2 linked regions of the Homo sapiens genome follow. The protein of the gene in region 1 purifies or fractionates together with the protein of each later gene. This does not show direct contact. Each region holds a gene or a part of one and is shown in the gene's direction. Other genes may lie near its edges. The genes, in order: HSPBAP1 and NCALD.

Region 1 (3,818 bases):
GTCTGGCTGTACAACTGGGTAATTAATTTTTTTTAACCAATGCTTCAGTATTTTTTTGTTGCAGTGCACTATAACGTATGCATTCTGTCTTCTGTTAATGGATGTTTAGGTTGGAAATTGGAATTTTAGTGGTGTGCCACTCTCTTTCTTTTAAGGACACAGAATGCGCCTGATGCTGGCATGCAGGGTCCTTTCCCTTGACCAGTGTTGTTAGGAAAATTGTATTGGGCCTGGCCAGATTTGCCGATATGTGTCCCTTGTTGCCGCTCCTCTTTCACACCATCTGGGCTGGAAATACCTGCTTCTTGGTTCAGGGTCATTACTAATTGCAGAATTCTGTCTTGGCTTCTACATATTCTCAAAGCGGAGTCTTTCTTTCAGTGCTAGGTTTTTATCATTTCATTTCTGCCAGAAGCCTTTCCCTCTGATGTGTTAAGCTTAATCCTGGTTGCCTGCTCTATTTGACAATTAGAATAGCTGCTTGTTATGCTCAAGTCTGTCTCTTCAACTGGGGCCTTAATTGCAGCTGCCTCTCTTTAACCAGAGGCCCTGACTGCATCTCTGCTCTCCTTGACCTGAAGCCTGGATTGCATCTTTCTGCTCTGTTTGACAGCCGTATCCTCTCCCTAGTCTAGTTTTTCCTATCCTTTGCTAATAGGAATGGCTTTGGAATCAGTGGAACAGAAGGAATATTGTTACAGAAAGCTATGTTGTGTGGGCTTAGTGAAGAGTTGTAGCCCTTGAGGCTTAAGTGAGAGGTATGGCAGGAGATCAGTAGCGTCACAGAAATTTCGCCTATAGCATGCTGAACTGGAGTTGCAGCAGATGTCAAGGTAGAATCCATGGAGAACTTCCACTCCCAATGCCAAAGTCATATCTACAATAGCCCTGACAGGTGCTTCACCTCCCAAGGAAGTTCGCTTGTTGTTAAAGAGTAGAGCTGTCATCTTTTTAAAATATTTGAAAATACCTCCAAGTTTTTCCATAATCTTTTCTTCTTCCATGCTCAAAACCTCTTACTTTCTTTAATGGGGTGTTTTTATGGGTGATTTTTTCCTTTTTCCAGACTTTTTACCATTCTGGCCATAGACTTTGGAATCAGGCAACTTTAAGATACAGGTTACCTTTGTTAGCTGTCTAACATAGATAATTACTTAATCTCTTCAAGCCTCCATTTTCTTGTAAAATGAGGATTATAATTGAACCCACCTCAGTAGAGTAATTGGACAACACATTGTAAAAGCATCTAATATAGTGCGTGGCATATGGGAAGTGTTTAAAAAGTAGAAATTGCTATGAGGAGGAGGGAGAGCTATTATGTCAAGAATAGTTCTCTTAATATATAGTGCCTAAAACTGAATATCAGTAGGCCTTATTTGGTAGAGTATAAGATTTCTACCCCACATGATCTCGATCCTAAATATCTCCAGTGCTGCTTGTAATATTGGGTTAGTTTTTTAAGTAATCTCATCTCACTTTAGTTTCATATTCAACTTTAAAATATCTGTGATTTTTTTTCACATGATCTGCTGTCAGGCAGGTTGAATCCTATCCTGTACCTATAAAGCTGATTTTAATTCTAAATCCAGTATTTCACAGTCATCCCTGTTAATTTTCATCATATTGGTTTGGTTGAGCATTCCAGCTTGACAAGATAATTTTAAATTTGGGTCTTATCTGTCATTTTAGTGAAACTTCAAGCTGGCCTGTGCCCTTTTGATATGTCCCCGTTAATTAGACTTTGAGTGTATCCTGGCTTTCTGGCACAGGAAGATATCCCAGGATACCCTTTCTCCTTTAGTGCCCCACACTTGGAAGTCAATCATTTCTCCAGGTAGCCACAGTTCTTTTTGTAGGAAATGGCATTTAGAAACTGAGATCTCAGCTCTAAATCTGTTCATTGCTCCTGGGTGTCAGTGTTTCTAGGCTCTTTCAGTGATGTAGCTAGAATGTGAGATAGATAGATAGATTAGATAGATAGATAGATAGATAGATAGATAGATAGATATTGATGTATTTATATTTCTAATTCATGTGTTTAAAAAATATATCTAGACAGGTAATATGCTGACGTCATAACAAGGCTTAAGGGAGGCATGTCTCACACATGAGCATGACACCCAATCATCAGACTTATGAACTATAAAAGTATCTAATTCAAGTTTAACATGATAGAATTTTTTATTTGTTTCTGTATTTTTATCTCTTCTCTTAACACTGAAAATCTGGGTCCTTAAAAACAGTAACATAAGGCCGGGCACGGTGGCTTACGCCTGTAATCCCAGCACTTTGGGAGGCCGAGGTGGGTGGATCATGAGGTCAAAAGATCGAGACCATCCTGGCCAACATGGTGAAACCCTATCTCTACTAAAAATGCAAAAATTAGCTGGGCATAGTGGCACGCACCTGTAATCCCGGCTATTCGGGAGGCTGAGGCAGGAGAATCGCTTGAACCAGGGAGACAGAAGTTGCAGTGAGCCGAGATCAAGTCACTGCACTCTGGCCTGGCAACAGAGCGAGTCTCTGTCTCAAAAAAAAAAAAAAAGAAAGAAAACCAGTAACATATTTACTTGTTTGCTGTATCCAGCAATATATTTTTTAAGATATCAAATTTGGCCGGGTGCAGTGGCTCACACCTATAATCCCGGCACTTTGGGAGGCCGAGGCGGGCAGATCACATGGTCAGGAGATTGAGACCATCCTGGCCAACATGGTGAAACCCCTTCTCTACTAAAAAAATACAAAAAATTAGCCGGGCATGGTGGCGCATGCCTGTAGTTCCAGCTACTCAGGAGGCTGAGGCAGGGGAGTCACTTGAACCCAGGAGGTGGAGGTTGCAGTGAGCTGAGATCGCGCCATTGCACTCTAGCCTGGTGACAGAACAAGACTCCATCTCAAAAAAAGAAAAAGATGTCAAATTTATGTTTCCAAAATTCAAATAGTAATATTACTACTAACCATAAAGCTTGCAAGTAAAAATTAAGATTTCTTTGCAATTCTTTTTATTATTAGACTGTATCTATCACTAAGAGGGATAGATACAAAGTCCTTTATTCAGGAGTCATTGTGAAGGAATTCTTTTCATTTATGGTTATTTTACTAATTGGATATTTAGTTAAGTTCATTTGTTTCAGTTTGTTTTCAATTTTAGGATTTACCTTTTTAAAATTTTGATCTAATTTAATATTTTAAATATGTAGAACATTTAACTTGTCAAAACTATGTTAAAAGTTATACTCAGGGAAGTCTGCCTTTCATCCCTGTTCCATCCACTCCATTTTTCCCAACCTTTATAGAGATCCATTTTTATTCATTTCTGGTTTATCATTTCCAGTGTTTCTTGTAAACATATATATCTATATCTATATATAAAAGTAAGTAAATGAATAGATATATTTATATATGTAAATAAGTATATAAACAGTCTTATATGTACAAAGTGCATAAGCATATAAATATGTCTTTACTTATTTATATACTTATTCAAATATATTTTAAATTTTCTATCCTTTATTCCATAGAAAGTAATAAACTATAGTGTTCCATACCTTGCTTTTTTCAACAATAATATCTTGAATTTCACTACATAATAGTACAGAGAAATATTCATATTTTTCTTCAACCACTGTCTAGTACTTCACTGTATGGGTGCTCTACTGTTCATTAGTTCCTTTAAGGATAGATGTTTGGGTTGTTTCCAGTCTTTTGTAATTACAAATAATGCCACTGAATAACCTTGTGCATATGTTGTTTTATATTTGTTGAAGTGTGTCTTTGGGGGAGATCTTAACAATGGATTTGCCATGTCATAGGGTAAA
Region 2 (3,818 bases), on another chromosome or scaffold:
CTTGCCTCTCTAGCCTGAAGAATGTCATCTGCAGCCTTGCTCCTCAAAGTGGGAACCTTGCTTTTCAAAGCAGCGTCTTCAGAACAGCAGCATCAGCATCACACCGGAGCTTATTAAAAATACAGACTCTCAGCCCCACCCCTTTCCCCCACACTACCCAATCAGATTCTGCATTTTAACAAGATTCCCAGGGGATTTGTATGCACATAAACAATGGAGACGGCTAGGAGAGGTGGCGCATGTCTGTAATCCCAGCACTTTGGGAGGCTGAGGGAGGAGAAGCTTGAGCCCAGGAGTTCGAGACCAGCTTGGGCAACATAATGAGACCTTGTCTGTACAGAAAAAAAAAAAAAAAAAAAAAAAAAAAAAAAAACGCCCTGTGTGGTGGGGAGTACCTCTAGTCCCAGCTGCTGCTCAGGAGACTGAGGTGGGAGGATTGCTTGAGCCTATGAAATGGAGCCTGCAGTGAGCCGTAAGCGTGCCACTACACTCCAGCCTGGGTGACAGAATGAGACCCTGTCTCAAAAAACAATCAAAAAACATTGGAGACACAGGGGTCTACTGGGTCTTCCTGCTGGTTGTCCCTCCTGAAGGTCCTCACTGGAGGAGAACAAGCTTTGTGGGCCCGGCTTCTTCTACCTGTGCCTCCACATCTTATACCAATCAATAGGGGTAGGACTAGGTCCAATGCGGATGGGGACATTCCCTTCAGCCCGCATTTGGGAGGTTTAATGATAGGTCTATTGTGTGCCATACTGTTTTTCTGTCTTACCACCATGTCGCTTCTGTCCCCAGGCAATCTATAAGATGGTTTCCTCTGTAATGAAAATGCCTGAAGATGAGTCAACCCCAGAGAAAAGAACAGAAAAGATCTTCCGCCAGATGGACACCAATAGAGACGGTAGGAGGCGGGGGCTACACTGCTTTGCTCAGATGGGGGCTGCTGGAAGGACTGGAGAGTCCAGACTGGGAAGTGCCACTCGAGGCCCTTCAATGTGAGCGGCTCATCCTCCAAGCCTCCTGGGTGGGTAGGAGGGGAGAGGACCAGGTGGCCACAGGAGAGCTGAGCCCAGAATTGGGGGAAATGCCTTATTTCTAGTTTTTTCTATCCTCCTTGTAGGTCAACTTCTACCTCCAAGAAAACAGAATGGATCTTGTGGGGCAAGAATGAAAGGAACCAAGAAACCATTGTTAGCACAGACCCATCCTTGGGACAGGCCTAGGCTATAGCAGGCTGGGTCCCTGCAGTCCAGTTCATCAAAATGGGGAGAGGGTTGTTATTCTGTGATCCTACCCAGATGCCGACAGCTTTCACTCCAGCCTGCCAAAGGGGTTTTGTTGGGGTCTCCTGTGCATGCACTGAGATGTTGTGTTTCCCAGAGACAGTGGGCTCCCATAGTCACTGGGGTGCCCGGGGTAGTGGTGAGGGAGTAAGGTGCCCAGCAGGTTCCCACCCTGATGGTGCTACCCACAATTCAAACCCAACGAAGTGAAAAAGAAGGTTGCATTTCCAACTTAAGAACAGAAGGATTTTAGATCTTAAATTGCCAGATAGAATACAGGAGGCCCAATTATCCTGGAATTTCAGATAAACAGCAACAGTTGTTAGGATTAGCCTAACAATTGTTTAGCCAACTAAAAAAGTCACTTGCTGTTTATCTGAAATTCAAAGTTAACGGGGCATCATGTATTTAATTTGCCAGATCTGGCAACCCTATTTAAATGTTATACTTGAGTTTAAAGAGCTCAGCTCAGGGCCCGGCTCTGTAGCTCTTGCTGTTATTATCAGCTCACCCGATCTGTTCAGAGGCCTCGGCAATTCTTGTCAACCATGTGCACAGGCACTTGGGTCCCCCACCTGGCGCTGATCTATAGAACAGCAGAAGGCGGCTTCGCAGTACAGAGAGCCTCTGTCTCCTTTTATCCCCCGCCCAGGTACAGCTGCCTAAGAATCTGGGTTTGTGTGGTATGGGCCTGTCTGCTTGCTTGTTTCCTCCACAAAGGTGCCATTCCATTTGGAAACATCCTATGTCCCCTTATTTGCTTTGATTCACAATGAATAGTTGTGACTAAACAAGCACGGGATTATTTTAATAGTTAATTAACTTGCTGATGTTAAACTGCAGGTTTTACTGGTACTCAAGGGAGCACAATGGGTTTGTGCTGTGCTCTAGGTCCAGACAGCTCTTCAGGATAGGGCTGAAGGATGGGAGAAGATCAGATGTCACAGGATAAAGCCCTAAAGCCCTAACTGTGTGTTGATCACAGGCAATGAATTAGGGTCTTTCCACTGGGACTCTGCTGCTATGGGATTGCAGAGCCCTGACTGAGTTAGCATTCTCAGAGCACAACTTACTGCTAAAGACCTGTGCCTTTCCAAAGGAAAACCTCATGTTTAAAATTAAATTAAATTTTCAAAGGTTAGGGTTGGGAGAGGGGGGTGGGAGCTGTAGAAGGAAGGAGGAAGAGGGGCTGTAAGTTCACAGCTGTCAGAGGAATCTTAGCTCAACCAGGAGACTGGGTGCTTCAGCTCAGTGCTTGGCTGCTGGACCCCAGGATTGAGGACACCTGCACCCCTCCCTGCCGAGAGCAGAGCAGTCCTCACCTAGAGTCTCCTACCCTTAGATTTAGCTTGCCTGTTGCTCTTGGAATCTAACTTCTGGCCTCCGATTTGAAAAGAAAAATCTGGGCCCTCAGGCAAGTTCTCCTAGGAGCCAACTCTGAATCATGCAGACAGTTAAGTGAAGAAAGCCAGACGTCATGCCGAGCTCCAGGTCTGCCCCTGCTACCTCCAGCTGGTGCCTCCCAGAGCCGACCCCTGAGAGACTGCAAAGTGTTCAGAGATCACGCCTGTCTCCCTTCCCTCATGCCTTGCCAAGCTGGAGGAAGTCATTACCATTGTAACTACTATGTGGGCAGGGCTGGGCTCATAAAAAATGGCCAGCACACAGAGCTTGGAGGGGATCAGCTCTACAAATTAAAAATAAATTAATAAATGCATCCCTATCTTTTTCCTTCATGGAGATAAAGTGGGTTTCATTAAACAAGAACTAGGTTCTGGCGGGGAGGGAGTTGTGGCTGAGGAGAAGATATGTTTGTTGGTGTTTCTGTTGGGGGAGGCCCCCTCCTGTCAGGTTTGGAGTAAGTTGAGAAATAAAAGAGGACAGAGGTCAAAAGATAGATACTGGAGGCTATGGCTTAGCGTGAGAGTCCAAGGACGTGCTGAAAAACCCACAGGCGTGCAGAGCCAGGCAGGCCGGGTGCTGCCCTTGGAGGAGCAGATGGAAATAAATCCTCTCTGGGGCAGCTCCTTTCAAGAGAAAAAGGGAGGGCAAAGCTGGGCGGAGATGCCCAGCAATTCCTCCCAAATTTACCAATCGAGCATGTCACTTCACTCCCAGGGGCGGGGTAGACAAAGAGGAAGGGTCCTTCTGGAAGCACCAGGAATGGGAAAAGCCTTGCAGTCCCCCAACTCCTACCCCACCCCCTCCCCTCCTCTCCACAAGTGACAGGCCTTCCTGGAAGAGAATTCTGTACGTGCTCCAGAGTAAGCAGAAAGGAAAGGTCACCGGGGTCGGAGTGGGAGCCCAGGCTGCTGAGCCTCCCTCCTCCAGCACATCAGGGTAGCAGGAGAGCACCCTAACTGAGAGGCAGAAACCCATGGGTTACCCTCTGCCTTGAACATACCCTGCTCTTCCCTGACCTCAGATGGAGGCACAGCTGTCTTCCCGTGGTGTATGAACAAACACTTACGTCCACGGCTTCTTCCCCAAGATAGGATGGGCTCTTGCAGCAAACCTAAGAACACAGAGTGGCCT

Evidence for each region.
Region 2: the proteins of HSPBAP1 (region 1) and NCALD purify together in Homo sapiens (affinity purification with mass spectrometry; 2 studies listed by BioGRID and IntAct, with this or other methods). This does not show direct contact.

The regions. Positions count from the first base shown.
Region 1 is NC_000003.12:122,748,706-122,752,523, reverse strand, and holds part of HSPBAP1 (HSPB1-associated protein 1), read left to right. Parts: intron 1-2,048; exon of another isoform or gene 2,049-2,152; intron 2,153-3,818. UniProt on the Homo sapiens protein: May play a role in cellular stress response.
Region 2 is NC_000008.11:101,689,874-101,693,691, reverse strand, and holds part of NCALD (neurocalcin-delta), read left to right. Parts: intron 1-795; coding exon 796-901; intron 902-3,818. UniProt on the Homo sapiens protein: May be involved in the calcium-dependent regulation of rhodopsin phosphorylation. Binds three calcium ions.